Linked DNA regions of Homo sapiens: region 2 is linked to region 1. The links come from fine-mapping of genetic effects on gene expression. A gene starts in region 1. The other region holds a variant in brackets. All regions are shown on one strand. Distances are between the middles of the regions.

What was found.
Region 2: its variant is fine-mapped to the expression of ADCY6 in whole blood (TOPMed, PIP above 0.99).

Annotation. Positions count from the first base shown.
Region 1 is chr12:48,787,590-48,790,490 of GRCh38, forward strand. ADCY6 (adenylate cyclase 6) reads right to left here and starts at 1,500. Exons shown (of 22, transcript NM_015270.5): 1 at 1,317-1,500. It overlaps ADCY6-DT (ADCY6 divergent transcript), which reads left to right and starts at 1,558. Exons shown (of 3, transcript NR_110019.1): 1 at 1,558-1,638; 2 at 2,396-2,530; 3 at 2,724-2,901. RefSeq lists an enhancer at 1-447.
Region 2 is chr12:48,758,358-48,761,258 of GRCh38, forward strand. It overlaps SPMIP11 (sperm microtubule inner protein 11), which reads left to right. Exons shown (of 4, transcript NM_001351123.2): 2 at 852-974. Among named protein-coding and RNA genes, the nearest start is that of MIR4701, 12 kb to the right of the region's middle. The variant G/A (reference allele first, on the strand shown) is at 1,368.

The DNA of each region.
Region 1 (2,901 bases):
AAAATTTCTCTATATGGTCCCCCAACCCACTTTGTCCAGCAACCCATCACTATGAGCCCTGGGAGCACAGACCACCTCCCTCCTCCCCAGAGTCAGGCTCCTAAGCCTTGTGCCTCTACCTTCTCCTCCCCTGAGTGTTGGTCCATTTGCACTCTCACAGATCTGCTGTTCTTCATACCACCGGCTCCCACAGCCACAGCCATGTCCCATTCAGCCTGGCAGGCCCAGGCTCAGTGCCTCCCAGACCTCAAGTCCCTCCCAAACCCTGATCAGGCTGAGACCAGAGTTTGGAACCAGCCAAGGCCAAGGCCCAGCCCTAAGGATGGCTCTGCCCACTGCCTTGCCAAGCCTTCCTGGCCACCTCCTGTCTATCCCATCCCCAGGGCCCATCTGCCCCTGCCCTCCTTGGCAAAAGGAGGCTCCAGGGGATTAAAAACGACTTCAGAAAGTTCATGGTAAGAGGCACTGCCCAGGCGGGGCCCAGCAGTGCCAGCACCACCCACCATACTCGGACATGGGCCTCAATTCTTCAATTCTGGGCCTTTCCAGATGTAGAGGAGCCTACCCAGGGCCTGTATCTGTCGGTCCAGTGCCCGCTGCCGCCTTCTCCCATCCCCAGTCCTCACTCTCCCTAAAGATTACAGAGGGCTCCCACATCACCCTTTACTATGCAACCCCCACCAGGTCCCTCCAGCTCACAGGGGTAATCTGGTAAGGAGAGGATATGGGCAAAGAGGCTCCCACGCCTGATTCCACCTCTAGCCTTTCAGTCGAGCCCCAGAGTCTGCTTTGAATAAAGTCAGCTCCCCTGCCCACCCTGCGGCAGGCCTTGGGGGATGTGGGGAGCCGACCCCACCCCTTTCATTCCCAAGGTTTTGGGTGAGGGGAAGGAGAGGGACTCCCGCAGACAGAGGGCATCCCTCCCTCTGCCCAGGCCGGTTCCTCTCCCCTAAATGGAATCTCCCCCAAACTCGGAGACACCCCACAGCCCCGCAGCAAAAAACTCAGGCCAGCCCCTCCCCCAGTACGTGCCAGATCCTCCTGGCCTCCGGGCCAGCCTGGAACTCGCCCCGTGGAGGGAGGCAGGCGGCGGGCGACGGGGGTGGCGAGCGCCGGACCTAGGAGTCCTCGATCCCACTGCCTCCATGACTTCCCTTTGCCAACCCCAACTCCCTCGGGCAACACTGCCGAGACGACCCGTCCAAGGCTTCGGCGCCCCCACCCACAAACTCTTGTCGAGAGCCGCTCGGGTGCGTTCCAATCCTGGCGCACCGGGAGCCCGAGCGGCCACTTCCCCTAGCCCTCAGCGCGCTCACCTGCCGGCCCGGCTCCGCGCCTGCCCTGGGCCCCCGCCCCGCCGCCCCCGCGGGCTCCGGCCGGCCGGCCGGCCGTCCCGCGGTCCTCCGAGCCCGCGCGTCCTGGCCGTCCCGCCCGCCGTCCGCCGTCCGCCGTCCGCCCGGCCCTCGCCCCCTCCCGAGCTGTCCAGCGCAGCCGCCCTCTACCCCGGATCCAGAAGTCCCCTCCCCGCTGGCTCCCGGACTCCCCGCCTTAAAGGCACAAGCTCCTTTTGTCTGGGCATCCCCCTCCCCCTCCCCAGAAGTGGGGGCCGAGTTGCCCACTCCCCTTCCTAGCAGCGGGGTAGGGGCGGAGGAGGCCAAATAATGGGACCCCTCCCTCCGCGCGCCCCCTCCTCTCCTCCGGCCGCTTCCTCCCCCAGTCCTGGGAAGACAAGCAGCTACTGTTCTGGGATCAAGACCCCGCGGGGAGGGGACCTCGCAGCCCGGTCCCCTTCCCTTCACCCCGGCCGCCTCCTCCGGCATTCCTCTCCCGCCCTCACCCCGGGGGTCCCCGAGCGCGCCCGCAAACCCACCCCTCACGGCTACATCCCCCGCCCCGCCCACCGAGGGTCGCCTTCCTTCCTGTCAGGGTCCCAGGGGTTGGGCCGGCGCCCCGCGCCCACTCTTCATCCCCAATTCCTCCCTGCCCCTGCCCCAGCCCCAGCCCCCACCTAGCCATTCCCGCCCTGCCTGTCACGGCCCTGCGCCCTCCCGCGGGAACTCAGTTTAATAATTAATTAAGCTCTCATTCCACAAGGCGCCAGGTGTGTGCGGCCTGCTTGCCCGCACACCACTTCTTTCCTCTTCCCCCCAGTCTCTGGGGCAGCGGCCCCGAGGCGAACCTCGGGGCCCAGTGGAGGGACCCAGGGAAGGGGCACTCTCCCTGCCGCCCCCACAACCCCCCGCCCTACTCTCTGGGAGCCCCTCCCCCGCACCTGCCAACTTGCAGCCTCACCCCCAGGCATCTTTTACCCAAAGGGCTGTGCTTCTCTGCTGGGGGTTGGAGGGGCTACTGGGGTGCATTGCTAAGTGCACGAACTGAGAAACTGGGTCTTTAGTTATTTCCAGCACGGAGCAGCTGCCCAAGTTACCTGGGAGATGGGAAAATCGTGTGAAAGCTGGTTAACCCTTTGAGGATTAGAGTAATGGTGGAAGCAGAAAGGAGAAGGAGTTTCACTCCAGGATGTACGTAGGTGAGTGTGACTTTAGAGGGGGTGCCATTCTGGAGCTGGGAAGAAGGCAGCCTGCCTGGCTTCCTTTTGAGGCCCCCTCTCCATTCCCTCAGTCAGACCTCTAGCTCCTCCTTCCAATTCAGCCCTTCCCCAAGCAGCCTATTCCCCACCCAAGATCCCAAGACCTAGGTATCTGAAGATGCTTCCTCCTCAGGACCAGCCCTCCCTGCAGTCCTGTCCTTCAAGACTCAAGTCTTGTCCACTCCAAATCACCACTGGGATTCCTAAGTCCAGGACAGAGCTTCAGGCAAGGAAAAGAAGAGTTGGGAAAGCCAGTTTCCAACATTTATCAGCCACGTGTACCTGCAAACTATATACCTTGGGTAAATCAT
Region 2 (2,901 bases), 29 kb before region 1:
ATGCTGGGCCCTGAATACTGCTGCTGGAAACAGGATGCAGCTTCACTGCTGCCACCTCCCGTCACTAGCGGATAACTTTATATGGCCACTGCTTCCTTGCAACCTTCTTTGATTCAAAATCTGAAACGGATGTGTTTGATTGGCCTAGCCAAAATTCTTTGTCCATATCCTTGCTGAAAGAGAGGTTGGATAAGGAAGAACTAGTCTATTCAGCCTCTATTGTGAGATACAGGTTTTGCTTCATAGGGAGTGATTCCCAAACATAATGAATGCTAGGTAGCCACTATAATACACCACCTTACCAGCCCCATCTCCTGTCCTTCTCCTCTTCACCCAGCACTCGAGGCTCCAAATCAAATAGCTCTCTGATGCCTTTCTAATGCTTCTAAACACTTGTCATTCTGCTGTCTGAAATGCTCTTCCTGATTCTACTGTAACCTACCTCCTTCTTTTCCTCCAAGACTTAGCTCAAACATGACTTCCACTATTAGACCATTTGAAGTTCTGCAAATATGCCAATCCCAGGAAAGGAATGTCTACCCAGATAAGGGCCTTTTTCACTTGGACTAACCCTAAGTATGTGTCCAATATCCTGATTCCAGAAGTTGGCCTCTTAAAATCCAGGAGTCAGGGAGAAGCAAGAGAGTGGTAAGGGAGGTCTTGTGATCACTGTGTTCTCTCTCCCTCCCCTCTGTCACAGCCATGGTGATTGGATTCCTGAGGTCCTGAAAATTGGATGTGAGTGGCTAGGAGAGATCCCTGCTATGCATCTGGTTAGCATGGAGACCAGGGAATCAGAGAATCAAATAGTCATTTGCCAAGTACTCAGAACGAGTCTACTCTAATTTCAGACCAGAAGGAACCAGAGCCTACTAGGCTTCCCCCCATTATCTCAAAAGATGGGAATTATTCCGTGCACCAGAATAGCCACACAAGATACCACGAAGCTGTCCGGAAGGTGTTGTTGAAGACGTGTAAGTACCTTGGGGTGGGCATCATGCTAGGAGAAAAAAAGATATGTCTGAGTTCCTAAAGAATGGCTGGGATGAGGCCGGGCTTGGTGGCTCATGTCTGTAATCCTAGCACTTTGGGAGGCCGAGGCAGGCGGATCACAAGGTCAGGAGTTCAAGACCAGCCTGGCCAACATAGTGAAACCCCATCTCTACTAAAAATACAAAAATTAGCCGGGCATGGTGGTGCATGCCTGTAGTCTCAGCTACTCAAGAGGCCTTGAAGCCGGGAGTTGGAGGTTGCGTGAGCCAAGATCGTGCCACTGCACTCCAGCTTGGGCAACAGAGTGACACTTTGTCTCAAAAAAAAAAAAAAGAATGGCTGGGATGTGGTTGGGTATGGTTATCAGGCAGGAA[G/A]AAAAAAAAAGAGCCAAGAGAAGAGACTGAGAGGAAGAGGGAGAAAGTAGACTTGGTGGGGTAAGCACGATATGATAAAATGAAAAAAAAAATTTTTTTTTGAGATGAGTCTTGCTCTGTCACCCAGCCTGGAGTGCAATGGGGCCATCTCAGCTCACTGCAACCTCTGCCTCCCAGGTTCAAGTGATTCTCTTGCCTCAGCCTCCTGAGTAGCTGAGATTACAGGTGCCTGCCACCATACCTGGCTAATTTTTGTATTTTTAGTAGAGGTTGGTTTGTCCAGGTTGGTCTCAAACTCCTGACCTCAGGTGATCCACCCACTTGGGCCTCCCAAAGTGCTGGGATTACAGGCGTGAGCCACCATGCCCATCAATGAAATGAAATTTGAATTAGACTTGGAAGCAGAAGATGTTTGAGTCCTAGTTCTGCCTCTTTTTTGATGTTTCACCTTTTCTTTTCTTTTCTTGGAAACAGGATCTCATTCTGTCACCCAGGCTGGAGTGCAGTGCTGCAATCATAGCTCACTGCAGCCTCGAACTCCTGGGCTCAAGTGATCTTCTTGCCTCAGTCTCCTGAGTAGCTGGGACTACAGGCATGCACCACCAAGCCTGGCTAATTTTTTAAAAACATTTTTGTAGAGAGGGAGTCATGCTATGTTGTCCAGGCTGGTGTCAAACTCCCAGGCTCAAGTGATCCTCCCACCTCGGCCTCCCACAGTGCTGGGATTACAGGTGTGAGCCACCACACCCAGCCCATTTACCCTTTATCAACCTACTCCCTCATTGGTTTTGCTGTTGTTGTTGTTTGTTATTGTTGTTTTGAGGCAGATTCTCACTCTATCGCCCAGGCTGTAGTGCAGTGCTACGATCTTGGCCCACTGCAACCTCCGCCTCCCTTGTTCAAGTGATTCTTGTGCCTCAGCCTCCTGAGTAGGTGGGACTACAGGAGTGCACCACCACCCCTGGCTAATTTTTGTATTTTTAGTAGAGACAGGGTTTCACCATGTTGGCCAGGCTGGTCTCGAACTCCTGATCTCAGGTGATCCATCTCCCTCGGCCTCCCAAAGTGCTGGGATTACAGGCGTGAGCCGCCACTTAGGGCCCCTCATTGGTTTAAAGGCAGGATGTTGGGGAGAGAAAATGCCTGAGCTATTGTTTTACTAATCTTTCAAAATTATTGGGAGAAAAAAGTATATTGTATATTATCATGCATTATCCCTTTGAGGAATAGTAAGCACAAGCTTTGGCATTTTATTGAACTGGGTTTAAACTGCAAACGAATTCTGTGACTTTAGGCAAGTTCCTTTAACCACAACCTCTCTGAACCATCTGGAAATGGGAATAATACTTTTTAGCACTATTGTCAAGAGAGAACATGTACATTTTAAAAAGCATGTAGCCAGCCTGGGCAACATGGTGAAATCCCATCTATAAAACATACACCTGGGCACAGTGGCTCATGCCTGTAATCCCAGCACTTTAGGAAGACGAGGCGGGCGGATCACTTGAGGTCAGGAGTTCGAGACCAGCCTGTC